3 separate regions of the Homo sapiens genome follow, and all the other regions are linked to region 3. The links come from fine-mapping of genetic effects on gene expression. A gene starts in region 3. Each other region holds a variant in brackets. All regions are shown on one strand. Distances are between the middles of the regions.

Region 1 (8,174 bases), 58 kb before region 3:
TGGACCCCAGGGTTGGGGCCAACAGGCTTTCAACAGGGCAGACCCCAGCCTGAGCATTCCCAACCTTGGTGAGGCCCGACCCCCAGGGTGGAAAGCCGCCTAATGCCAGTGTGGTCCTTCCCATTTTGAACCCAGGCCCCTGTGCCCACCCTCCTTGGTCCCCAGGCCTCCTCCAGCCCTCGCCTTGGCTCTGCGCCTCAGTCCACTGGAACCTCGTTCCAACAGCCTTTATGAGGTCACTGAGGTGGAGGCGTCACAGCCCACCACATCCTGCTCCCAGGCCCTCATTCCACTGTTCCCCACCCCTACCCAGCTGTGTGAGGACCCCTGCCACGTTCTAGCACAGCCCCTCTATGGGAGCTGCGGGGCTGGCCTCACTCACTCTTCCTTGCTTCCCTGCAGCAGAGGGGACGTGGCTGGTGGCTGGAGAAGCTGGATTTGCCCTTTGATGGTGGCCCTCTTGATCCCCGGCTTGCTGAAGTCAAAGTAAGATTGAGCGAAGTTCTTGTCTTCCTGACTCCAAGATTTCAGTGGTGCTCTGGCTTCGCGTGGTTTCTCTGGCAGGGTCTCTGCGTGATTTTCTGGCTCTCGCTCCTCCACAGTGGTCAGGAGGGGCTCTGTGGAAGGCTCCAGAGCCTCCTGGGGTGGAGCTTTCATCATGTGTTCCAAACTGGGCAGGTCCATCCTGCTGGAGGAGGCCATGGCCAGGGAAGATGCAAAGGTGATTAGCTCTGTCAGGTCAATGGGTGGCGGGAGATCTGAGGACAGGAGGGGGCTTGGTGCCTGGGAGCTTGTGGTTGGAGGAGCTGAGTGGGCATCAGGGATCTGGAGCTGCTCCTCGGAGCACAGGGCGTTGGTGGGGATGGCCTCCCGGAGCGGGGATCTGATGGGCTGGCCTGCGCTGCCATTGTTGAGCTGCATGTTGATGGCCCGCTGCAGGCTGTGCTCTGAGGCCTGGATGAGCTTGTTTGCCCAGAAGAGGTGCTTGGAGGTCTGCGCACTGATGGAGTGATGGCAGGCAGACACGTGGTTCTCCTCCGTGAAACTCCGGCAGTTTGAATTCAGACTCCACGGTCTGAAGGTCTGTGGCGTGGGCAGCCCCATGTTGGAGTGGACGGACTCTATCTTGCATACCAGCTGCATGGGTTCTTCAAAGTCAGACTCCTCGTTCGAGTTGGCTTCCGTGTCCAGCTCAGCTTCAAGCTTGAGGGCTGGGTATAGCTCTGACTCCAGTAAAGCCGGCACCTGTCCGATCTCCAGTTCTGGGTCTGGGTCTGGGTCTGGGTCCAGGTCCAGGTCCACTTGGAGTTGGGGCTTCTGCTCTAGCATGTCTGCCTCCAGCTGAAATGTTTCAACTCAAAGCTGAGGAGGCAGGAGCGGGAGGTCCTGCCCCTGAGGCCCTCCCTGGCACCGAGTCCCTGCCCCACCCCTGCCCTGGGTCCTGCTGTCTTCCCCCCGCCCCCTAACCCCATGCCTGCCTCCTCTCAGAGACCTGCCCGGTGAGGGGGTGTGTGTGTGGGTGTACCCACACCGGCCTGGTACTAGGGTCCCAGGATTGTCAAGGGTAGGGGCTGGTGGGGACTTAGGGAAGAGCCCTGCCGCTTGCCTACCACCTCCCCGTAAGAGGACACTCCCATTTTTACCTCCTGTTCCTCTTGTATCTGGTGTTGACTTAAGTCATCTCTAAGACAGAAGAAGACAGAGTGGGTGATGGGGATCTGTGGGGCTTCAGCGGGAAGGGGGTTTCTGGGGCCCTCAAAGCCCTCTGCCTTGTAACAGAAGCTGGCACGATGCACCTCCCGCCGACCACCCCGCCACCAGCTCATCCACTCCCCTGCTGTCCCACTCCACTGCCACCAGGAAGTCTGCGGTTGTATTCTGAAACTTTAGTGAGTTTAGGAAGCTGCTTGCCAACTCATGCCCCACCCCCAAAGAGGAATCCAGTTGGTTGGAGGTAAGGCCCAGGAATCTCATTTTTATCAAGCACTGCAGGTGAGCTGGGGCAACTCACTTCGAGGATTAGTGCCCAGAACACTAGTCCCCAGCAGGGGAGCCCCAGAGCAATGTCCTCCCACCCACCTGCCCACTCTTTCTTCAAGTGCCTGCCCACCCCCGCCTTGAGCAGCTCTGTCCTCAGCAAGCCAGGCAGCTCTGAGGGGTCAGGTCCTATCCTGTCCCTGGGTGTGCCCCACCACCCCTCAGTCTTCCTCTCATGCCAGGGGCTGAGGGCATAAACAGAAGTGGGAGGATAGGCGCCCCACGCCCTCCCCAGCCTTTTGGCCTGGACACTGGCCCCGGGGAGGTTTTGGAAATGGCAGAAGGGAGGGAGATCCTAGGCTGGGGGATCCTAGGCTGGGGGTGAGGTCGGAGGTCCTGGAGGGCTCGGGGGAGGCCCTACGTTGATTGAGGATGGTTCTCACCGCATCTCTGCAACCTCCACTGACCCTTTGCCGCAGCATGGAAATCCATGGGCACCTGACAGGGGAAAGGAGGTGAGGGCAGGGAGCTGCAGGGTAGAGGACAGTCCCAGAGGGATTCCGGAGCCAGCCCCCTTTTCCTGCCCTTCTTTTCTCTCTTCCCGGCTGCTATTCCCCCTCACCGTCCTGCCCCGCTCTCCTTGTTCCCGAGCCGGTCGCCATTCCTATCCTCCAGTCCTGCTCCCTCCACTCTCCGTCTGTGCCTTGCCTCCTCGGAGGCTCCCGGTTCCATCTCCATCCCCCAAAACCGTGACTGCTAACAGTACCCTGAACATGACAGAGCGCTTCCATAGCCTGGTCACTTTACCTGCTTTATCTCACTGATTCAACACAAAAAATTAGGACAGGTCCATTTGCCCAAGGTCCCCCAGCTGAACATAGCTGAAGTGATGACTTGAATGCAGGCTTGACTCAGGAAACTCTTAACTCCCTGCCCCCACCGGCTACTCCCAGGACCCTGTAACTGCGTGGAGTCCCAATAACGCCCCATGTGAACCTCCCCCATCTCCCCATTCCTGCTCCTCTGCCGGCTTCCTCTCCTCTCTCTGGGTCATCCATCACTGACTCCAGGCCAAGGCCTGCACCCCAGGTGTGTAATCTGAGGTGGTGCTAGCACCTATCCGACGATTTATGAGCTCAGATCACCCTCTGCAGGGGAGACTGACTCCTTGGGAACGTCCGCAACCCCAAACCCCTCCCTGGAGGCTTGTATCTTTTACTGCAGAAGCTGTTTCTTCACCCTGTGGGAGTGGGAAGCACCAGGCTGCCCTGTTCTCTGCTACCCAGGGCCATGCATAGGGGTTGATGGTGGGGCCATCATGACAACCCTGCCATCATGCAAGGTGGGTCCCCATCAGCCTGGGGTATGGCAGGAAGTGACAGCCCTGGCTCTGGCTGGGAAGAATCGCTCCCAGGATCATATTGGAAGGATGAGAATGTACTGCGGTCTCTTCCTAGAGATGTAGTGGCTGGAGGGAGGGGTCCTTGCATGGCTGGTCTTGGGATTGGGACCATCTGCTTCAGCCTGGTCTTGGGGGATGTATCAGCAGAGTGGCCGGCTCAATGATCTCTTCAGAACCCTCCACCTCCTTGACCACTATGCTTCCCTGGCTTCCTCACGTGTCTCTCTTCTCCCTCTCCAACTCCCCCTGTCCCAGGTCCTGCTGTTCCCCCAGGCTTCTGACCTCAGGGCCTTTGCTCCCTTTACAGAATTTCCCTGGGCAGTTTAATCAACACCCACAGCCTCAACCCCTCCATAAACGGCAGCTGGGTATGGACAGGAGAAGAAATTACTGTTGTGTGAGCCTCTTAACAGCACTGGGGGCTGGGAGAAAAAGTCAGACATTGACTCAGCTTGGGACCTCGTTGCCTGACTTGAGAATGTTCTATTAGGGATTCAAGTGATATTCTGCAGTATATGAAATAATTGAAATAATTTTTTTTGAGGCAGGGTCTCACTCTGTCACCCACGCTGGAGTGTAGTGGTGTGATCTCGGCTCACTGTAACCTCCGCCTCCTGAGATCAAGCGATTCTCCTGACTCAGCCTCCTGAGCAGCTGGGATTATAGGCATGCGCCACGACGCCCAGCTCACTTTTTGTATTTTTAGTAGAGATGGGGTTTCACCATTTTGGCCAGGCTGATCTCAAACTCCTGGCCTCAAATGATCTGCCTGCCTCGGCCTCCCAAAGTGCTGGGATTACAGGCATGAGCCACCGTGCCTGGCCGAAATAATTTCAATTTCCAGTGGTTTGTTGCTAGTATACAGAAATATATCCATCTTTTGTATCCTGCAACTATACTAAAATCTTATTTGTTCTCATAG[C/CT]TTTTTTTTTCTTTTAGATTCTATCGGATTTTCTACATAGACAATAATGTGTGTGAGTCAAGACACTTTTACTTCTTCCCTCCCAATCTGGTTCCTCTTATTTTCTTTACTTGCCTAATTGCACTGGGGACAATCTCCATACAATGTTGAGTAGGAGTGCGTGTGTACATCCTCGCTTCGTTCTGAGCTTAGGGGAAAGTGTTTAGCCTTTCACCATTAAGGATGATGCTAGCTGTAGGTTTCTTCATGATGCCTTTCATTAGCTTGGGCATCTTTGTGAAGTTTCGTCTCTTAGATTGCTTAGTTTTAATTAGGAATGGATGCTGGATTTTGCCTAATGCTTTTTCTGCATTTATTGAGATGATCATATGGTTTTTCTTTAATATGATATTATATATGTTATACATAACATACGTTATAATACATTAACATATGAGTAATGTTATATTATTTGAGTGATAATTCTTTTATATTTTTATATTCTGTTTATGGTAAAATACATTGTTTTTTTTGAGACAGGGTCTCACTCTGTTGCCCAGGCTGGAGTTCAGTGGCGCAATTTCAGCAACCTCAACCTCCCTGTCTCAAGTGATCCTTCCACCTCACCTCTGGAGTAGCTGGGACTACACGTGTTCACCACCACCCCCAGCTAATTTTTGTATTTTTTGTAGAGATGGGTCTTGTTATATTGCCCAGGCTGGTCTTGAACTCCTGGGCTCAAGCTATCCACCTGCCGTGGCCTCCCAAAGTGCTAGATTATAGGTGTGAGCTACCATGCCCAGCTATAAATTTATTTTTTAAAATGTTAAATCAGCCTTGCGTTACTGGGATAAACCTCATTTGGTTGTGATATATTACCCTTTTTCTATGTTGTTGAATCTGATTGGCTTTTTTTCAGAATTTTCACATGCATATTCATGAGGGATATCGGTGTATAATTTTCTTTTCTTGTAATGTCTTTGTTAGGTTTTGATAGGGAGGATGGCTTCGGCCCGGGAGGCAGACGTTGCAGTGAGCCGAGATGGTGCCATTGCACTCCAGCCTGGGTGACAGAGCAAGACTCTGTCTCAAAAAAAAAAAAAAAAGGAGATGAGGTCTCAGTATGTTGCCCAGGCTGGTCTCAAACTCCTGAGCTCAAGCGATCTTCCCATCTTGGCCTCCCAGAGTGTTGGGATTACAGGCGTGAGCCACCATGCCTGGCCTAATTTCTTACCTCAAATTCATATCTTGTATGTCCAGACTCTTAAGTGTGGCTGCCACGGTTCTGCCTGTCTGACCCCTGTCTCCCTTTCTAGTCTGTCATCTCTCCATACCCCACTCTCCTCGCCCTATTCATCCTTCATCCTTTCACCCAAATGAGAAACCTGGGTCATTTGTGACTCCTCCTCCCTCCGCAGCTACTGCCCTCCTACCCCTGATGCTGTCCTCATCTCCCAGTACCAGAGCCAGCACACACCCATGACTTCCTACCCTTTGGCACTTGGTGCTGAGTGCTTTGCACATTCAGTCTTCATACCTACCCTATGCCCAGTTGGCCACGGCTCTCCTCTCACAGATGAGGAAACGTGTATGAGGTCATGCAGCTATTAAGAGCAGCACACGACCCAAAGGCAGGTCTGGCTGGCTCCAAACTCTGGGATGCTACTCACTGCACTGTCTTAAATCTCTTTAGTCTTCCAGTGGGACCACTGCAACTATGTCCCCCTCCAACCTGGATTTTCAATGACCTCAGAGTGAGCCTGCTACATCTCACTTGTCTCCGGTTACCCCCAGACTCCATGTGGCCTCTTGGTCTGATCTCTACCTTCATTTTTCATCTCTTGGCATCCAGCTTCCTGTCCCTCACCCTAAGCCGAAGCTACCCCCAGAGTACCGCAGGCCTTTCTGCACCCAGTGCCTTTGCAAATGCTATTTCTTATACCTGGAAAGCCTTCTTCTGGCAAAGTCCTACTCATGCCTGAAAGCCCAATTCAAATAATCAGTGTAATCCTCTCCATGACAGACCTGGCTGTCTAATCTACGTTTTACCTTACAGGCGTGAGCCACTGCACCCGACCTCTGGTTTTTTTTTTTTTTTTTTTGACAGGGTCTTGCTCTGTGGCCCAGGCTGGAGTGGCAGCATCATAGCTCACTGCAACTCCTGGGCTCCAGTGAGCCTCCCAGCTCAGCCTCCCAAGTAGCTGGGACTACAGGCTCATGCCGCCACACCTGTCTAATTTTAAACATTTCCTGTAGAGGACAAAGTCTCGCTATGTTGCCTAGGCTGATCTTGAACTCCTGGCCTCATGTGATCCTCCCACCTCTGCCTCCCGAAGTGTTGGGATTGCAGGCGTTGAGCCATCATGCCCACCTAATTTTTGACCGTTTTTAATGCTGGCCCATGCCCTTCTGGGAGAGAGGATCCCCAAAAGAAAGCCACCATTTCAGTGGGGGATCTGACGCCCCTATGGGAAGGGGAGACACAGGGCACTGGGGGCAAACATCTTTGCTCATTGGTTCAGAGAAGAGTACAAGGCATCAACGAAGCGCTCCGTAAAAATGTGCTGAAGACTGCCGCTCCTCCCTGCAAAGCCTCAAGCATCAAGGAGGGACAACTGGATGTGATTTTTTGGATCTGCAGTTCAGGATAATTCATGAGTCGTTTCCTGTGCACAAGGCCATTGCTCCTTCTGTGGTCTCAGAACCCCTTCAAGAACCACTGACTCTGCAGTCCCTACTCCAAGGCGCGCATGCGTGTCCGTGAGAGCACATGGGTGTGCACCGCGCAGGGGCTGAGGCTGGGAGCCGTAGTCAGGGGCACCGGGTGGGCTTTGGCGGCGGGTCGACCTGCCTTTCAGGTGCCGGGGGTTTGGGAGCAGGGGAACGGGCCCTGGGCGGATTCCTGACCGCCCCCTTCGCGCCCCTCCCCCTCTCACTTTCGCTTTCCCCGCCTGCCCCAACCCTCGCCCCCGGGCGCTCGGCCGCTCCCACCTGTCACCCCCATGCAGACCGAGGCTCTGTCCTGGAGGCGGGGAGCGGGCTGGTGGATGCTGCCTCTCCGCCTCCAGTGTGCTCTTTGGCTGAGGGACTGGTGGGCGCTGGAAATATTAGAGGCGCCGGTGCCTGTGATGTCGCCGCCTCTGTGACGTCCCCGCCGCGACCCCACAGGCAGGGAGCCGCATTTAGGTTTCGGGCGGGCGGACGGGGGACGGCCCGAGTGAGGCGTCCTCCGAAGGCTGCGGGCCCGAAGCCAGAACTCCTTCCTCTCCGAAGACCTCGGGGGTGGGGCTCGCGCTTCCGCAGCGGGCCTAGAGCGAGAGGCAGGCGGCAGGTAAGCCTGGCTGTGCTGGACAGGACTTGCACCCGCTCTGCACGCCAGCGGCTCAGGGCTGCCGCCCTTTTCGTGGTCCCAGGGCCCTTCCAAGAACCGGCTAAACCAACCCAAGCCGCGCGCACACACACTTGTGCACACAGGGAGTGTGGAGCCAGATTCGATAAGGCACCCCGTGTGCCCCAGCTCCATGACCAAGGAACTCAGCACCCCGTGTGCCCCAGCTCCATGACCAAGGAACTCAGCACCCCGTGTGCCCCAGCTCCATGACCAAGGAACTCAGCCCACAAAGGCATCCCTGGCCCCATGCAGGGCTCAGGAGGCAGCGGAAAGGGTTAAGAGTCCAGGCCTCAAGGACAGGAGGGGAGGGTGGAGGGCCTGTGGTGTGCATCCGGCATCCCTGGATGGTCAGGGCCCAGAACCCATCCCTATTTCCCTTCTGGTGGTAGGGGGCTGCCTAACTTGGGCAGTGGCACAAAGCATGCAGGCTTTGTTGTCCTCCTCCTCCACCCCTCAGCCTGGCATATTTTGGCGAGGGACTTCCCTGATGCCACCGGGCAAGG
Region 2 (8,174 bases), 26 kb before region 3:
AAGAGGAAAAAGGGAAGGAGGTGGGTGGTGAAAACAGGTCCCATCCTCATCTTCCGTCTCTGGGGGCCATGATAACATCTCCAGTGGCTCCTGGCTGATTCCCCTTGTCCTCAGCATGTGTACTATTAATGCAGTGCCCACATTCAGCAAGCAGGAGGTGACCAACCAGAAGAACTCAGAACAGAAGACGCTAAAAAGGCTGTGAGAAGTGAGATTGGCGGAATAAGAGATGATACTTTTCATCCACAATGAGCACTGTCCTACTGTTTGATTTGTCACCACAGGCAAGAGTGACTCTGATAAAGAGAGAAAAGCATCCCCCAGGTTGCTGGTAGAGGGACATATACAGGTGCCGGGGGATTAGTTACCTCAGTGAGCAGGACACCCTCGTTGTCCTCAGTTTTGGGGCTGGGCTCCCGGGATCTGGAGCCCCTTGCTGCCCAGGTCTTGGCCAGGCTGGTCAGGCTGTGGGCCTGGCCTGAGCTCACGCTGCCTTGCAGAGCATGCACTAGGTATTCCTCCACAGAAAACTTCTCATGGGCACCACGAGACAGGCAGCTGGGCTCCAGGTGTGGGCCAGGCAGGGGCTTTGGACTGTCTACACAGGCCAGTTTGCTCAGGTGTGGGTCAGGCAAGGGTTTCTGGCTGTCTACACAGGCCAGTTTGCCCAGGAAGGACTCCAGAGGGTGAGGTTTCCAGGGCTGGAGAGGGTGGAATGGGAAGGGATGAGGCAGTCTGCTATAGGGGAAGGGGTGCGTGGGCAGGGGCAGGGGGCCTCCGTCCTGGGGGTGGTGCAGTTTCCACACGTGGTTCAGACATTGCAAGGGGCTGATCAGTTTGTGGAGTTCTGATCGAGGCAGAGCCGGCCGTAGGCCCTCGCCAAGCTGCTTAAAACAGAGTTGCCCAAGGCCTGGTTCCTTCAGAGGCTTGGTGAACTGCGGGGTGTTTCTAACATATGGGGCGCCGAGTGGAGACTCATCCTCCTGCGGGGGGAAACACAGCTATCAGCACAGAGGGCCAGGGCCCAGGGACAGGCTCCAATTTCAAGGCCCCATGAACCTGGGGTCTGGGCAGTGGGTGGAGGGTCTCACCTGCACTGGGATGGTGCAGCTCTCCTGCTCAGGGGTCCTGGGGAGGGGTTTGGCCAAGGCCACTCCTGCATGAGCCAGGGACTTTGAGCTCTTCTTCTTCCGTTTCTTCCGGGCTTTGCTGCGACGCTTTCCCTTCCAACACACACGGGCCATTTTGCCCTCTGTAGCATGGGCCACATTGTTGGGGATCTGATCAAGACTCTCGGACTGGCTGTCACAAAAGGGACAGATTTGCATATTGAGCACGAGGAAGCAGGAAGATGGACTGGTCCAGACACTTGTATCTGGACTCCTGCAGATCCAAGGTCAAATCCCAGGTTGCCATTCCTTGTGTGAATGCGGCAAGGTTTCTAAATCCCAAGGAACCTGTTTTCTCACTTATCTCACTTATAAAATGGGTTTGGTATTTTCTGCCATACAGGGTGGAAATGAAGTTTCAATAATTTAGTTCATTTAAAAAGCCCAGCTCAGTGTCTGGCCCCAAGGCAAGCTGCCGAGAAGCTGTGCTTGTTACTATGGTGATGGGGTACAGACTCAGCACTTCTTGGGGAGAGTCAGGGGAGCAGACACGGTTCGCTCACTGCTCTCCAAGGTGAGCTGCCCCTGGAGAGTTCCTAGGAGGGGGCCACGCTCATGGCAGGCCTCTCAGCTCTGACTGAGCAGAGCTTGTTTCTGTTGCCTCCGGATGGAGGAACAGGTAAGGCTGGTCACCTCCATTCTCACAGTTCCTGGGGGTCCCTGGCTGCTGTTGAAGGTGAACAGCCTGGGCTGCTGCCTGGTACTGGGGAGCCTGCCCTTCTCTGCTGGCCTCGGGGCTCATCACTGCCATGGCTCTAACTGGACTGGGATCCCTGCCAAGTATTAAAGGACCCGGCAACAGATGGGTTGCTGCAGAACAGCTGTGGAGCAGATCATGGCCTCAGCCACCCTCCCTTGGCCTCATCTTCTGCCCCCATGGAGAAGGCAGACTCATGGCAGTCCTGGGGACCACTGGAGGCCTACAGGCTTCTCTTGGACAGCTGAAAGAAGTGTGTCTATCAGAGGCTCCTACCCTGGGCCAAAAGGCACCCAGGACAGCAGAAGGAATCCCACCAAACTGAGCATTTCTTGGTTCCAAGGCAGCCAGCTGCCCTCCCCACAATCTTATCACTAGCAGGTTCCAAACTCCAATGATACAAAACCTGCCTGGTGATAGGGGAAGGAGCTGTTTCTAGCTTGAACTCTTGTTTTTTTTTTTTTTTTTGAGACAGAATCTTACTCTGTCACCAGGCTGGAGTGCAGTGGCACAATCTCGGCTCACTGCAACCTTCGACTCCTGGATTCAAGCGATTCTCCTGCCTCAGCCTCCTGAGTAGCTGAGGTTACAGGCATGCGCTACCATGCCCAGGGAATTTTTGTATTTTTAGCAGAGACGGGGTTTCACCATGTTGGCCAGGATGGTCTCGATCTCCTGACCTCGTGATCCACCTGCCTCGGCCTCAGAAAGTGCTGGGATTATAGGTGAGAGCCATTGTGCCCAGCACTTGAACTCTTGTTTCAAAAAATCATCTGTGGGGGAATGCAGAGCCTGGGAACAGACTCAGCCCCACCCTGGCTTCCTTTCTACCGGGCCACCAAGTCTATCTGTCCCCTCCTTTTCTACCGCCCGCATCCCTACTCGGTGCATCTCCCAGGAGAAAAGGCACCAGCAGGTTTCTCCCATAGAGGACAGTGGAAGGCCCCCCCCACCAACCCGGCCTGCGCTCACGGTCACGCAAGAGTGGGAAGCAGCTTCTGTTCCCAGCACCCTCCCTGTTGATGGGAAACGAGGGGGTGCATTAAGGACTCTGAGGAGAATAAAAATAAAATGTCAAGTTGATGTGGCCCAGAGGCAGTCAGCCACAAGCTGTGAAAAGCCTTTGAAAAGCTTATTTGGCTGAGAGAGCGGCTCAGCCAGGAAAGCCTGGGTGAGTTCCAGGAGCTGAACCACAGGTGCTGAGGGAGGGAGCCCGGGGTCAGCAGGAGCGGCCCAGGCAAGTGCTGGGGACGAGGGCGCTGGGTCCAGTCCCCACCTTCCCACTCAGGCTTGTCTCCCCTGCTTACCTGTACTGTTTGGACCCAGCGATGAAAATGCGTTCTGAAAAGGTGGGGCTGAACTCTTGGCTATTCTCACCTAAAGCAAAAGGAGTTGGATTAGCAGAGAGGAGAAAAAATAGGAATTTAGCACTTAGGGGAGAGACATTTTACAGAGATCCCCTCTGGCGCCTCTCCTTCCCCTCCTTTCCAGACAACCCCTGTCTGGCAGTCACCTCCCCACCAATGCCTCCTTCCCGCACTGTCTCTCCCCAGCTTCTCAGCTTACTGGTCAAGAGCAGACCACGGCCTCAGCCACCTGCTCTGAAATAGCCAAGCCTATATTATGGGGATCACAGGGCGCCCGCCTCACTTCCTATGAAGCTGAAGTGAGATGATCTACAGAAAATGCTCAACACAGTGCCTGGCTCATAGGAAAAACAGCTATTAGGTATTTATATATGTGTGTACATATAAGTGTGGATATATGTGTATTTTTTTAAAACAATTATTATGTCACTCTCTGTATTTTAGTTTTTATTCTCTCATCTCTCCTCAAAAACCAACCAGGAGGAAGTGGGAGACGAGGGCAGGATGTATGCGTGTGGAGAAATGACAGCATGGCTGTCCAGCTCTCCAGGTTCCACCCCAAGAAGCCTCCCGGGTTGAGGGAAGGCGTTGGAGAGAGAGGACTCCCGGCCCTACCCAGGCCTCGTGGGAGTTTCTGTCTCCAAGGGAAGCCACCATTACTAGTCATCATAAGGTATCATGAGTAGAAGAAGAAAGGACCAGACTAGGTCTCACCCTGCAGCAGCCTGCCGCCCCAGGACTGGCCCAGCAGGCTCAAGAGCACGGTGCTCATTCCTGGGGGTGGGGCCACCTCTAGGTGGAAGATGGTGAAGGCCCTACAGGCCCCAGTGGGGCTTTCCAGGAGACCTGGCCTTTCCTGTCTGGAGCCTCTCCAGACACTGGGGCTGCTCAAGGTCACAGCAGAAGGTTGATGGCCTGCTTGATGATTCTGCAGAGTCCCGAGTGCTCGTCTGTTACCTCTCTTCCCCTGCTCCAGTCACGATGGGCACAG[T/C]CTCCCCTTGCCACATCCACCATCTGTGCACTTTTACAACCCCACTTTCCATGATTCTCGGCACAGACCTCTGGTTGTGTCTCATGAGAATCTTATCTAGCAGTGACACAGACCTCTCTCCTCCATAGGGAACCCCTGGGCCCAGCTACCCACCTGCAGGCCCACCCACCTGCCCCGTGCCCACAACAACCCTAGGCCCCTACACTCAGCCTGGGCGATGATAGAGATGGCAGCTGGCCCTGCCTCGGAGCCTTCCTTGGCTGTGCCCTTGGTAATCACGTCATTCAGGATCTCCCACTTTCCGCAGAACACAGGGCTCTTCTCCACGGCCTCAAGCTTGTAGACGGAGCTCTGTTTCTTCCCCAGTGGCGGCGTCTTCTCCTTGGCTTTGGGGAGTTCCTTCTGCTGCCCCACTGCTGAGCCAGGGGCACCTGGGCAGGCCATTTCCATCACTGCCATCTCCCAGGCTTGTGCTCATCCTGAGAGAGACCAAACACAGAGCAGGTCACTTAGAATCCCAGACCTGGGAGAACACAGGTCAGCCTTGGGTTGGGGGAGAAAGGCAGGGGCAAAGGGTCTCTGCCTGTTTATGTGTGCCTCTGCCACACATACTCATCCTCCAAACATCCTCAATGGTAACAGAGTCCACCTCTCAACAGCTACACGTTCCACACGGCACAGTCCCCCGGTCCTCCCAGTACCACAACATAAACAGCCTCCTTCACTGTGTCCAGCAAGGATGCCAGCCCACTCCCTCTAGGAGAGCTGTGGCACAAATGTCTGGGTTGGCTCTTTCTTGCCTTTATGATGGCTCGATCTTTTTCTGTTGTTTTATGGCAAACTTTGTTTCCCCAGGACAGGGTGGTGAATCCCAGACTCCAAAACCATGGCCTCACTGACCCCACATAAGCCTTTGGAGAGGACCTGTTGGCACACACCATCCACAGCGACTTTTCTCCAAGTGGAGAGAAGCAAGGTTCTATTCTGTTCCCTAGTAGGAGGTAGATATCTGTGTGTGTGTGTGTGTGTGTGTGTCCTACAAAGTCTAAAACTCAGCATGCAAATGGTGCTCAGCACGTGGTTCCTTGCCCAATGCGTCTGTTTGTGGCTCTCCAGAAGGAACTAACATGCTTCCTCCTCTAATGTCCAAACTCATTGGCTGAAAACTTCTAGGTATCATTTTTCATTCAGGCAACATCAGGAGTAGAATTTATATTCAAGGCCCTAACACGAACCTATACCTCTAGAAATAAAGAATAAAGCATAAGAATTCACGTCTCTCTGGGTTCTGTCTTGCCCAGCCCTAGGAAGCTGCAAAGAAGAGCAACCCAGAGTTGCCAACAATCTGTGCAAACAGCCTGCAGACTGGAATTGGCAAAAAAGAGAAGAGCACTGATTTGAGACTGTTACCATTTGGAAACCTTTTTAAAGGCTGGGAGTTTTTAAAGGGCAGGGCCCCTCTCAGGCATGACTTGCTTTAGAAACAGCCTGAGAAGGTCCCAAATGCAGACAGATTTTTAATAACTGCTCTCTGATGGTAGGTTTGTCTTAAAGCTGCTACCAGCAGAAATCATCTTCCTTGCTATAACTCTGTGAACCCTGGATCACTTCTCTGCTTCTGGGGCAGACAGGTACACCATCTGAAGCTGAACTCTAAGGCCTCTGGCCTTTTGCCCTGTGAGGCCTGAGGACTGAATGAGATGGTGGGAAGCTGAGGTACTAGGTTGAAGCATTCCTCCTTCTGAATCTGCCTCACTGGTCTTCCCACCTCGATGGCTATGAAAGGCTCTGCCAGCTTGGCTGGCGGGTGTGGTGGGGTTTGTTGTTCACTATTGATTAGTTCCTTGCATCTCTGTCTTTAAGGGTCTCCTAGCTCTGAACTTGGAGCAGCTCCAGCTTCCTGCAAGGATGCCTGGATTTGGTACCAAACGCCAGATGCTGAGGAGGCTGAATGGGTGGCCTCACTGTTACCTGAGGATCTTAAGAAGTCTGAGGGGGCCGGACATGGTGGCCCATGCCTGTAATCCCACCACTTTGGGAGGCTGAGGCAGAAGGATTACTTGAGCCCAGGAGTTCAAGATCAGCCTGGGCAACATGGTGGAACCCTGTCTCTACAAAAAAATACAAAAAATTAGCTGGGGTAGCTGGCCTGTAGTCCCAGCTACTCTAGAGGCTGCGGTGGGAGGAATGCTTGAGCCCAGGAGGTTGAGGCTGCAGTGAGCTGAGATTGCACCATTGCATTCTCCAGCCTGAGTGACAGAATAAGACCCTGTCTCTAAAAGAAAAAAAAAGTCTAAGGGGTGTTCTGACATCCAATTAGGCAAAAGCCCTTCAAGGCTGGCTATGCTTCTTGTAACTGTACTTTCATCCCACCTCACACCTCCCCACCCCACTCTACCTCCAAAAAAGAAACTGACCTAAGCCCAGAGCCGATCCCACTGTTCTCAGCCTCTTTACCAGGGGAAATGAGATCTTAAGAACAGACCAAAAAGTCTCCAAACCTAACAGCAGTAGGGAATGCTCACAGGGAGCTCGATGTGAGCGTGACCTCCTCATTTCTATTTGAAGAAGCTGAGGCCTAATTCAGTGGAGACTTGCCCAAGGTCACCCAACCCACGTGTGACAGGACATGGCCAGGATCCAGACCCTAGGTTCTTTAGGCTATGATGCCCACTCCCCAAGCTCCTGGGTTACAGGCAAATGCAGGAGGGCACACTAAGGTCCTCCCTGGTCAACAGGCTCCTGAGGGAAGAGGTGGGGCCCTGCACACAGTGCCTCCCCAGTGTATAGCACAGGGGCCACAGACCACGCAACTGACGCTGGCTGAACGAGGGACTCAAAGGACAAAGATTGCTTTTCCATAACCTTTGGAGACAGGATGATCCCGAATGCTGAGGAGGAAGAGAGAGTCCTGCCTGATGAATGAGAAAAATGAGGCCAGGTGGTGCAGTTGCTGCTCTGAGGGGCACGTGGCTATTAGAGATCTGGCTGTGTGGGGGCTCTGATAGCCTGTCTCCGCCTGGCATGGCCCAACGGAGGCTTCTGGATAGGTCATCCTGAGCTAGAACTCCTCCAGAGGGGGTGCAGGGCATCCCGAGTCCCAGAGTTGTCCTTTCATATTGGTGTTAGGTAGGCAGCTGTCCAGCGCCCCTCTGTGAGCACACCAGGCTCCCCTCTTCCCAGAGAAGTGGAAGCTGAGGCTGAGGCAGCCACGCTCAGAGACTCCTTTGCAGTTCCCCGATGACTCATCCAACAGCCTGGCAGGCAGACAGTAACAAGGAGGCTGTTGAGAAGCTGACCCAGCAGATGGCAGCTGAACTTGTGAAGGACATGGGGAAAACAGGCTGACCCTCACCTCTCAGGGGCACAAATCACGGCCTGGGAGCTGTAAAGCTCCTCCTGTGGCTGGCTTTTCTGTGCCACATCACCATGACTCAGACCCTCACCGACAGCCTCCAAGTTCAAGAGGCTATTCTTGGGACACTTTGGCCTGACAGTGGCTCTCCCCAAACACCACCTCCCACACAGACACACATGCACACACACACATGCACACACAGACACACACACATACGGATGCACTTGCTCCCTCCCTCCTTTCCTAATTCTATCTGGACTCTGGTCTACAAAAATCATGGTTCTGTACTAAGTCCAGGACTACTGGCCAGGGGGCCTTCCCAGCCCTGGACTTTGGTCTCTGGCTGTCACCCCAGCTCATGGCCCTAACACTTTGCCCCTTCTCCCTCCTGCAGCGTGTGGGGAGGACGAAGTGGGAGCCAGTTATGTCTCTGCCTTTGAAGGCAAGTCAAACTCCTGATTCATTCCTCAGCCTAGACACTCTCCTCAGCTTATTCACGCCCCAAAGGCATTGGGCCCTCTACTCTCTGCATAAGAGTTGAGGACACGAGCAGTGGCAACAGCCAAACCCACATGGCTCACCCATAAGCCCA
Region 3 (8,174 bases):
AAACTTTTTTTTTCCCTTGTGAGATTAAAACAAACGTTTTTCTTTCAAGAGATGGGGTCTCGCTATGTTGCCCATAGCTACTTGACCTCCTGGGCTCAAGTGATCCTCCCGCCTCAGCCTCTCAAGTAGCTGGGACTAAAGAAACACACGTCACCATTCCAGGCTTCTTGTGAGATTTAAAGGGGAATCTGCAAGTCCTTGACTGCAGATCGTGGGCCCCCAGACAGAGTCTCAGAGAGAAGCTGACAAAGACATCTTTACGAGGGGGAAAGGGTGGTGAGCTGGGGATGCCATGTGGTAGTGGGAACCTCATCCCACAGAACCAAATGTTCCCTCCTGTTCCCCCAAAGAACAAGTCCTTGCTGATCTACATGCCATACAGTATTTTCCCTTTCCTCACCTCCAGGATTAATGCAGGAACCTACTTGATCACGTGTGGGACACAGGAAGCCCCTAGACAGGCCTAGCTGTGTCTCCAGCTCAGAGTTAGGATTGTCAACTGGGCAGAGCCTGGACCTTTGTAGCCTCATTTGGAGTATGGTGAGGGCAGTATATAGTGTAAGACAGGGAGAACCCGAGAGCTGAAGCTTTTAGACTGAAGGACTGTCCCCCTAAAGGTCCTACTGAGAAAATGACTCTGGCCTGTCAGGCAGTCTGACCCTTCTTGACATCATCTTACAGAAAACAGGTTTAGTCACAATGCAGTAATTGGCAACTACTACTGCTACTATTACTACTACTACTACTACTACTATTACTACCACCACCAAACACCACCAACAAGAACAACAACAACAACAACAACAGTTACAGCCTCTATGTTCTGTGCTGGGCACTGGGCTCAGCACTTTACATATCTCCTCTCATTTTCTACTCAAAACAGCCCCATGAAGTATTTCTGATCCCATTCACAGATGAGGCACCTGATGATTAGAGAAGTGAAGTGATTTGCTTGCGGGCACACAGGCAGGCCGTGGCAGACCTCGACCTGACCCAGGTCTCTCTGACCTGACAGCCTCAGCCACCACATGTGACACGGAGACACCAAGGACTTGTTCTGTTGCTCTGGACAAATCACGGGCTCTCTGCCTTTGTTTCTACATCTGGAAAATGGGCACAAGCACACCTGTCCAGGCAGCAGGCTATTCATCTTTTGGCCTTTTATTAATTAAAAATCAATATCAATTAATAATTGATTGGTACAATAAATAAATAAAGCTGCTACCCTGGTTTCGTTATGTTCAAAATTGACATGTTTGGGGGAAGAAAATCCTTATCGTTTCATGAGCAAGGTAGTAGAAAAAGCAGTGACCTAGATATCAAGAAAAGGGGGTTTAGATTCTGAGCAATCCTGTCTGTTTCTCCTTATGAGGCTTCACTTTTCTGATCTTTGTCCCTGCCCTTCTTCACATGAGTATGGTGTGAAAATACAAAGACTGGCCATAAAATTATTCTTGATGCCACATAATTTCAAGGGATTTCTATCAGGGAGCTGAGGGATTAAGACATGTAGAAAAGCAAGAAGGGAAGAGGCTCCTTTAAACTAGAATACAAAGAGCACACCGGCCACTGAAGAAAAATGACTTTTTCTGCATTGTCATTCAGGCAGTCATAAGCCCAGAACAAAAAAATCTCATACTTCAATGTCCTGCTCAGCTCAACAGAAATGCTCCCCTACAATTTGCCCTACGTCTGGCCTTCCCTTTTTGGGCTACTACTTTCAGCATTTTAGCCAGCATCACCGAGTAAATGCAAAACCTTCACACATGCATCACTTTGAATGCCCACCCAGCTCTTGCAGATGCTCAGCCCCATTCTGTTCCCTTACTAGGGAATCCTGGTGTGTGGAGACCAGAGGGGCTGACATCCTTAGAGCTCCCTAAATCCACTGACATGGAATTGTCCCCGGCCCACCAATTTCACACTGGTGCCATCAATAGTGCCCATAATGCTCAGATGTTTCCAGTTTAACTGAAATACTAAAATGGGGCAAACAGGAAGCATCAGACACAACTGTGGTAGTGACTTATTAATCACGAAAGCAGAATTTTAGTTGCATTTTAACCTTTTGCCAGGAAAAAAAAAAAAACAACCTTGAGATGATGGAAGCCATTAGTAGAAGTACGCTGCCTTTATGCGTATTGGGCTGACTTAGACTTTTTACTTAGGACTGACTTTGCTTTTAAGATTTCTGAACTTTCCCCCCAGAAAGAACATCTGTCAAACCAACCAATATGAATCTGTCAGCTCTTCATCGAGGCAGGCAGGCTTGTTAGGAAAGCCCATGTGCTGTCCATTGAGACAGGAAAAAAAATAGGAAGTTAAAAGTGCCTTCACAGGCCAAAGTGATACAACACTGTTCAGAGGGTGCCAACAACGAAGAAAACAACCCTGGATAAAGCTTTCATCTCTTTCACATCTCCGCAGATCTCTCACCAGACCCTAGCCAGGGATGAACTGTTATCAATCACCAAAAAAAAAAAAAAAATCACAACAGTTGCCGAGGGCTGGACAACCAATCAGCGCAAGCCATCTTCTCAGCAGTAAATGATATACACATATTCCAGGCAGATCACAAAGGAGTCAGTGTTCAACAGGAGAACCAAAATGAGGAACCAAACCTTCATCTGTTGAGGCGAAACAGCCCAACCAGACATTTTTGTTTAATAGAGGGAGACTGATTTGGCAGGGTCTCTGTGGTGCCGCTCCCACAAACTCTTAACAGACAATACCAATGACAAAAAACCCCCTTCAGAACTGCTTCTTATAATCAGAAAACACTCAGAAGATGGCCTGAAGCTTGGCAGCGTCTTGCTGTCTGATTTCACAAAGAGCTGGTACACATACCTGGGTACTTATCTCTAAAATTAGAGTCAGAGACGATTACTTTTATTTTGAGATCTTCTGAGAAGTTCTCCACACCCTTCAAAATAAATAAGGATGTCCGAAAGGTGTCTGAAAAATTCAGAGGTCTGGCATCGCTCCAAAGAAACTGATTGATATCACTTAAAAAACACCAAGAGTAAATCCAAACACAACCAAAGTAAGGCAAGCACTTTTTAAGTGTCCTCTCACATTAAGAGCATAAAAACCACACCAAAAACTTCTCCCTCCTTTCTGCATCTCAGTTCTATAATGTGGTCCTGATCTAGGATTCTGGGAAAGACCCATCCTTAGTCCCAGCTATGAGGCATCAGGCAAGATATATACCACCCCCACTCCCTCATACACACCTGCCTCAGGTGCCTCGCCCATAAAACAAGACACTACAATCTGTCTTACCACACAGCCATCTGAAGGAAAACGGAGCTCACAGGTATGAAGACACTAAGCAAAAAACACATCACTAATGTTAAGATACTGTCTCCTTCTAATCTTTCAGAAAGACCATGTTTCTAGTCAAGGGGTTTCCAACATTTTTCTTGGAATAAACTCCAGACTCCTATTTTATATCATGACCTCACTCTAATCATTTAATTTCATGTGCTTTTAAAGTCCTTAATTAAGTCATTGGTGTTCATTGTCTCCAGCGATCAAAAGTAGTTTTACCATTTACTTTGCTGATGTATGTACCTTTTCACCACTTATCCTCTCCCTCATTCATACCTCCAGTCCACCCTTTAGGGCCGAGAGCAACTTTTTAACCTCGACTAGGAAGGAAACACTTTTTCTGAAGCTACCCAGCACTAAGGAGGCTCCCGGGCAGGTGGGAAACGTACGTACAAGTGGCCCCTCTCTGCCTGGTGCCCAGTGGCTGCAAGATGCCAGGGCCACGATGGGTTTCCAAGATGGGAATGTTATATTTGAACCGACAGATAAAGTCCCGAGTTGGAGAGCCCAGAAGAATTACAGAGGAGGACTGGGGTCCGAGGGCGGAGGGAGGATGCTGCGGGCGGCCAGCACTGCCCCGCTGCATGCTGAGGACAGGCTTAGCTCCTGCTCCCCGCCTTGAGGTGTGACCTGAGAACTTCCCATGAAAGGCCGGGAGGGTTTCACGCCAGGGCAGATGCCAGGGCGCACTCCTGCAGGAGACACGTCCGCCCCGCGGCAGGCGAGCTCCATCCTGGGGGCACTGGGGCGCAGAGCAGGCGGGCGGGCCTGGCGGCGGCGCGGGGCACTAGTGAAGGGGAAGCAGGCGGCCCCTGCGCGCGCTCGGAGCCAGCGTGTGGCCAGCAGGAGTGCGCGGCCTGGAGGCCCGGGGCGAGCGCGGCACCGGCAGCGCGTGCGAGGGCGCGCCCGCGGACCGCTGCGAGTGGGTTGGACGGGGTACGTCGGACTGCGCTGGCCTGGCCGCCGACCCCACTGCTCCGGGGCGAGGGGCCAGGCCGCAGCCCAGCCCGGGGCTGAGAGGCGATCCATCCCAGCCGCTCCCTGGTCGCCTCGCACCGGGCCCCAGGGTCCCGCCCCGTCACCTACCGGCCAAGCGCCGATCTCCCCAACCAAGCGAGTGTTGCGCTCCGCTCGCCCGCGATCTCCCGCCGCCGGCCGCCGACCGCTGAGCTCCCGGCCCGTGGTCGCCCCGCCCCGGTCCCGGGCTCCGCCCCCTCGCCTTCTCGGCCGCCCCCGGGGCCACGCCTCCCCCGGAGGCTGTAACTTTGCCTCGCTTCGCGCCTCCTTTCTTTGGCCGCACCGCGACCCGTGGCCCCGCCCACTCCCCTACGCCAACCAATGAGACGGTCGTCCCGGCAAGCCCGTCTTCCCGCTCCCTAGCAACGATTGGTTAACGAGGCCTGGTTTCCAGAAATGGGCACTATTTCCGGACGATGTTTGTAGAAGGGAGATCGCTGGGCGGGCGGACTGACAGAAGGCGGAGGCGACTAGGGTGTTGGTGGAACCACACATGCGCCCTCGGCTTCTGGCAGTCTTACCAGCTGCGTTCTCGAGGTTACGGGAAGGAAGGGCGAGTGTGCGCATGCGTGGGCACTCCCTGCCACTGACTTCGGTTACCTTGGAGACAGCGAGGCGCTCTCCCTCGTGGGTCGCGCGCGTTCCGCTTCCTCTCTGCTGCCAAGCGGTGGCGGCTGAGGCGGGAGGTGGTGGGGGTAGAGACGTTTTTATTGAGCTCTTACCGTGTGCCTGGTCCTGTAGAATCCCTGGAATGAGTAAAGAAGGTTACAGTGCCTGCCCTCGAGAAGCTTGGGGAGCCAAGGGCTTACAGGGGCCCGACCTGTGGGTTGAAACCCAGGTACAAAGAGAGCATGTGGGTGCGTGGCGTGGTACGAGCGCTGAGCAAAGCATCTGCTCTCTGGGTTTGCAGACCACAGAGCCAGCAAGAGGATGAGAGCTTGATGTATGCAAAGAAAGGACCTGGAGTTCAGAATATGCATTGAAGTGTCAACAGTGCTTCTTTCTGAATGGGGGTCGGGGGTGGGGAGTAGGGAAGGTATAGAAACTTTTTCTAACTTTTGCCCCTCTGTATTATCTAGTGTTTCCACACTGAGCTTGTATTTTATTTGTAATAAATTCCAGGCCAGGCACGGTGGCTCACTCCTGTAATCCCAGCGCTTTTGGGAGGCAAAGGCAGGAGGATCGCTTGAGGCCAGGAGTTGGAGAACATCCTGGGCAATATAGCAAGGACCTCGTCCTTGCAAAAAAATAAAAGAATAGCCAGGCGTGGTAGTTTGCACTTGCAGTCCCAGCTAGAGGGGAGGCTGAGAGTCTGAGGTTACAGTGAGCCATGATCGTGCCACTGCACTCCAGCCTGGGTAACAGAGTGAGGCAGTCCTTTAAAAAAAAAATCCAAACTTTTTTTTTTATTGCAAAATAAAAGATGTACTCCTACCCTGGGCATCCCACTTCCATGAAGGGTCCATGGTAGGTGTGGTGAGTGGCTCTAGTCCGGGGATAGGCAGGCCCCACCCAAGGCTGTCTTGAAAAGTAAGGAACACCCCATCTCTGGAAGTGTTTGAGCAAAGACCACCATCTGCTTGAGACTACTTTGCAGACAGTCCGAAGCTGAACTCTTCTTTCTGGATATCTGTGCCAAACAGTCATCTCTGCTGGGGAATAGGGAAGACCATTTATTTAGGCAGTGGTCAAAAACTCACAACCTGAGGGCCTCATTCACTCACCCAGGCCAGAAATATGCTTTGTTTGGCTGGCCCAATATTTTTTTAAATTTGAATTTGAATGCCTTAGAGCAGAGCCTGCGGTTCCTTACAGTTCCCGCCACCCAACCATCTAACCTTATGTCACCTGTCTGGCCCCTGGAGCATTTGAGGTTGTGGCTCCCGTAGAGTCCGTGCTTTAGAGCCAAACAGTCTCTGGCGCCCACCCTGGCTCTGCCACTGACTAGCTGGGAGATGGCAGACAAGAAAGAAGCTGGACTGGTGGCCCCCAAATCTCTTTCCACCCCTAGGGTTTTGCATTTCAGTGACTCAGGGAAAGGCAGAGCTTGGCCAGATGTACAGGTTGGTATCGGCAATCTTGGATGCCCTTATTGCCTCTCCCACCACCTGTTTGCCTCTGGGCACACCACTTCTCAGGAAAGATGTGGGCACACCTCCAGAGTCTGCAGACACTCCCTGGCTTGCCTTTGCCTTCTCTCTCTTTCACTATTCCTTCTTTAAAACACCCAGTGTCTCTGTACTTTGCCCAGGTTCCCTTGACACCTCTGGTCCTGGGTCCCCTGTACACTCCCACCTACCCCATCAAGATGATCTGTCTTTAAGTCCGTCCCTGAACATTAATGTGTATTAATCAGAGACAGTGAACTGTGTTGACTCAAAACTGTAACTCTGGAGAAGGAATGTCACATCAGGTTGCAGGGGAGGAGCAAACCACTAAACACTGGTAAGGAAGATATTCGGGATAAGCAAGGCCTCTCCGTTTCAGCTACTTTTCTGAGGTCTTTCCAAGCCCCACTGTGTGTGGGTGAGGTGAGAAACAATACACCTACCCAGAGTGAGCAGTGTGGTGTCTCTGAGTCTTGAAATGCTTGCACCCTCTGGAAGGAGAGCTTCGGGACGAGATTACTTCCTCCAAGCTTAAGTCAAGACAACCTGGGAAAGCTTCTGGCCTTGAGTCACTTGTGCAGCCTCAGCTCTGCTTTAAATACAAGAAATTGACATTTACAGGATGACTCACACCTGGAGCAGTGAACTAGGTTCTCAGTACTCAAGGGTTCTCACACCCCATCCATTTCAGGTCTGGAAATAGCGTTAAGACTGTGCTATTCCGAAAGAATCGCAGCTTGTTTTCTGATACTTTACAAAAAGTAAGCCAGATAGACTTAGAGTACTTCATGTGCATAACCTCACTGAATGTTCCCTCTAGGCCAGGGTTTCTCAGCCTGGCACTATAGACATTTGGGGTTGGATAATTCATTGTTGGGGGACGGGGCTTGTATTCGCCTGTTTTCACGCTGCTGATAAAGACATAGCTGAGATGGGGTAATTTATAAAGGAAAGAGGTGTAATGGAGTCACAGTTCCATGTGGCTGGGGAGGCCTCACAATCATGGCAGAAGGCAAAAGGCATGTCTTACATGACAGCAGACAAGAGAGAATGATGAGAGCCAAGTGAAGGGGAAACCCTTACAAAAACATCAGATTTCATGAGACTTACGCACTACCATGAGAACAGTATGGGAGAAACTGCTCCAGTGATTCAATTATCTCCCACTGGGTCCCTTGCACAACACGGAATTGTGGGAGCTACAAGATGAGATTTTTTTTTTTTTTTTTTTTTTTTGAGATGGAGTCTCCCTGTGTCACCCAGGCTGGAGTGCAGTGGCGCGACCTCAGCTCACTGCATCCTCCTCCTCTTGGGTTCAAGTGATTCTCGTGCCTCAGCCTCCTGAGTAGCTGGGACTATAGGTGTGCACCACCATGCCCGGCTAATTTTTATATTTTTAGTAGAGATGGGGTTTTGCTACGTCAGCCAGGCAGGTCTTGAACTCAAGTGATCCACCCACCTCAACCTCCCAAAGTGCTGGAATTATAGGCATGAGCCACTGCGCCTGGCCTCAATGTGAGATTTGGGTGGGGCCACAGCCAAACCACATCAGGGCTGTCTTGTGCATTGCAGGATGTTTAAAAGCTTTCCTGGCCTCTGTCTACTACATACCTATAGCACTCCCTCATCCACCCAATGTGACAATAAATGTCTCTGGACATTGCTAGATGTCACCAAGGAAGCAAAATTGCCCCCGGTTGAAAACCCCTACAGTCTGAC

What was found. PIP is the estimated chance that this variant, and not a neighbour inherited with it, causes the effect. A credible set is the group of variants that fine-mapping cannot tell apart.
Region 1: its variant is the best candidate, but not a certain one, in a credible set for the expression of MAP3K14 in whole blood (TOPMed, PIP 0.87).
Region 2: its variant is the best candidate, but not a certain one, in a credible set for the expression of MAP3K14 in whole blood (INTERVAL, PIP 0.66).

What each region holds. Positions count from the first base shown.
Region 1 is chr17:45,254,733-45,262,906 of GRCh38, forward strand. SPATA32 (spermatogenesis associated 32) reads right to left here and starts at 7,362. Exons shown (of 5, transcript NM_152343.3): 1 at 7,272-7,362; 2 at 2,421-2,475; 3 at 1,644-1,683; 4 at 383-1,341. The coding sequence starts at 7,284. It overlaps MAP3K14-AS1 (MAP3K14 antisense RNA 1), which reads left to right. Exons shown (of 4, transcript NR_110326.1): 2 at 403-486. RefSeq lists enhancers at 1,170-1,930, 7,194-7,799, 7,276-7,365, 7,800-8,174 and silencers at 7,006-7,125, 7,196-7,245. The variant C/CT (reference allele first, on the strand shown) is at 4,302.
Region 2 is chr17:45,286,063-45,294,236 of GRCh38, forward strand. It overlaps MAP3K14 (mitogen-activated protein kinase kinase kinase 14), which reads right to left. Exons shown (of 16, transcript NM_003954.5): 2 at 4,428-4,703; 3 at 3,174-3,243; 4 at 1,092-1,302; 5 at 369-983. The coding sequence starts at 4,683. Among named protein-coding and RNA genes, the nearest start is that of MAP3K14, 27 kb to the right of the region's middle. RefSeq lists silencers at 4,409-4,612, 7,421-7,715 and an enhancer at 7,421-7,715. The variant T/C (reference allele first, on the strand shown) is at 4,225.
Region 3 is chr17:45,312,544-45,320,717 of GRCh38, forward strand. MAP3K14 (mitogen-activated protein kinase kinase kinase 14) reads right to left here and starts at 4,477. Exons shown (of 16, transcript NM_003954.5): 1 at 4,417-4,477.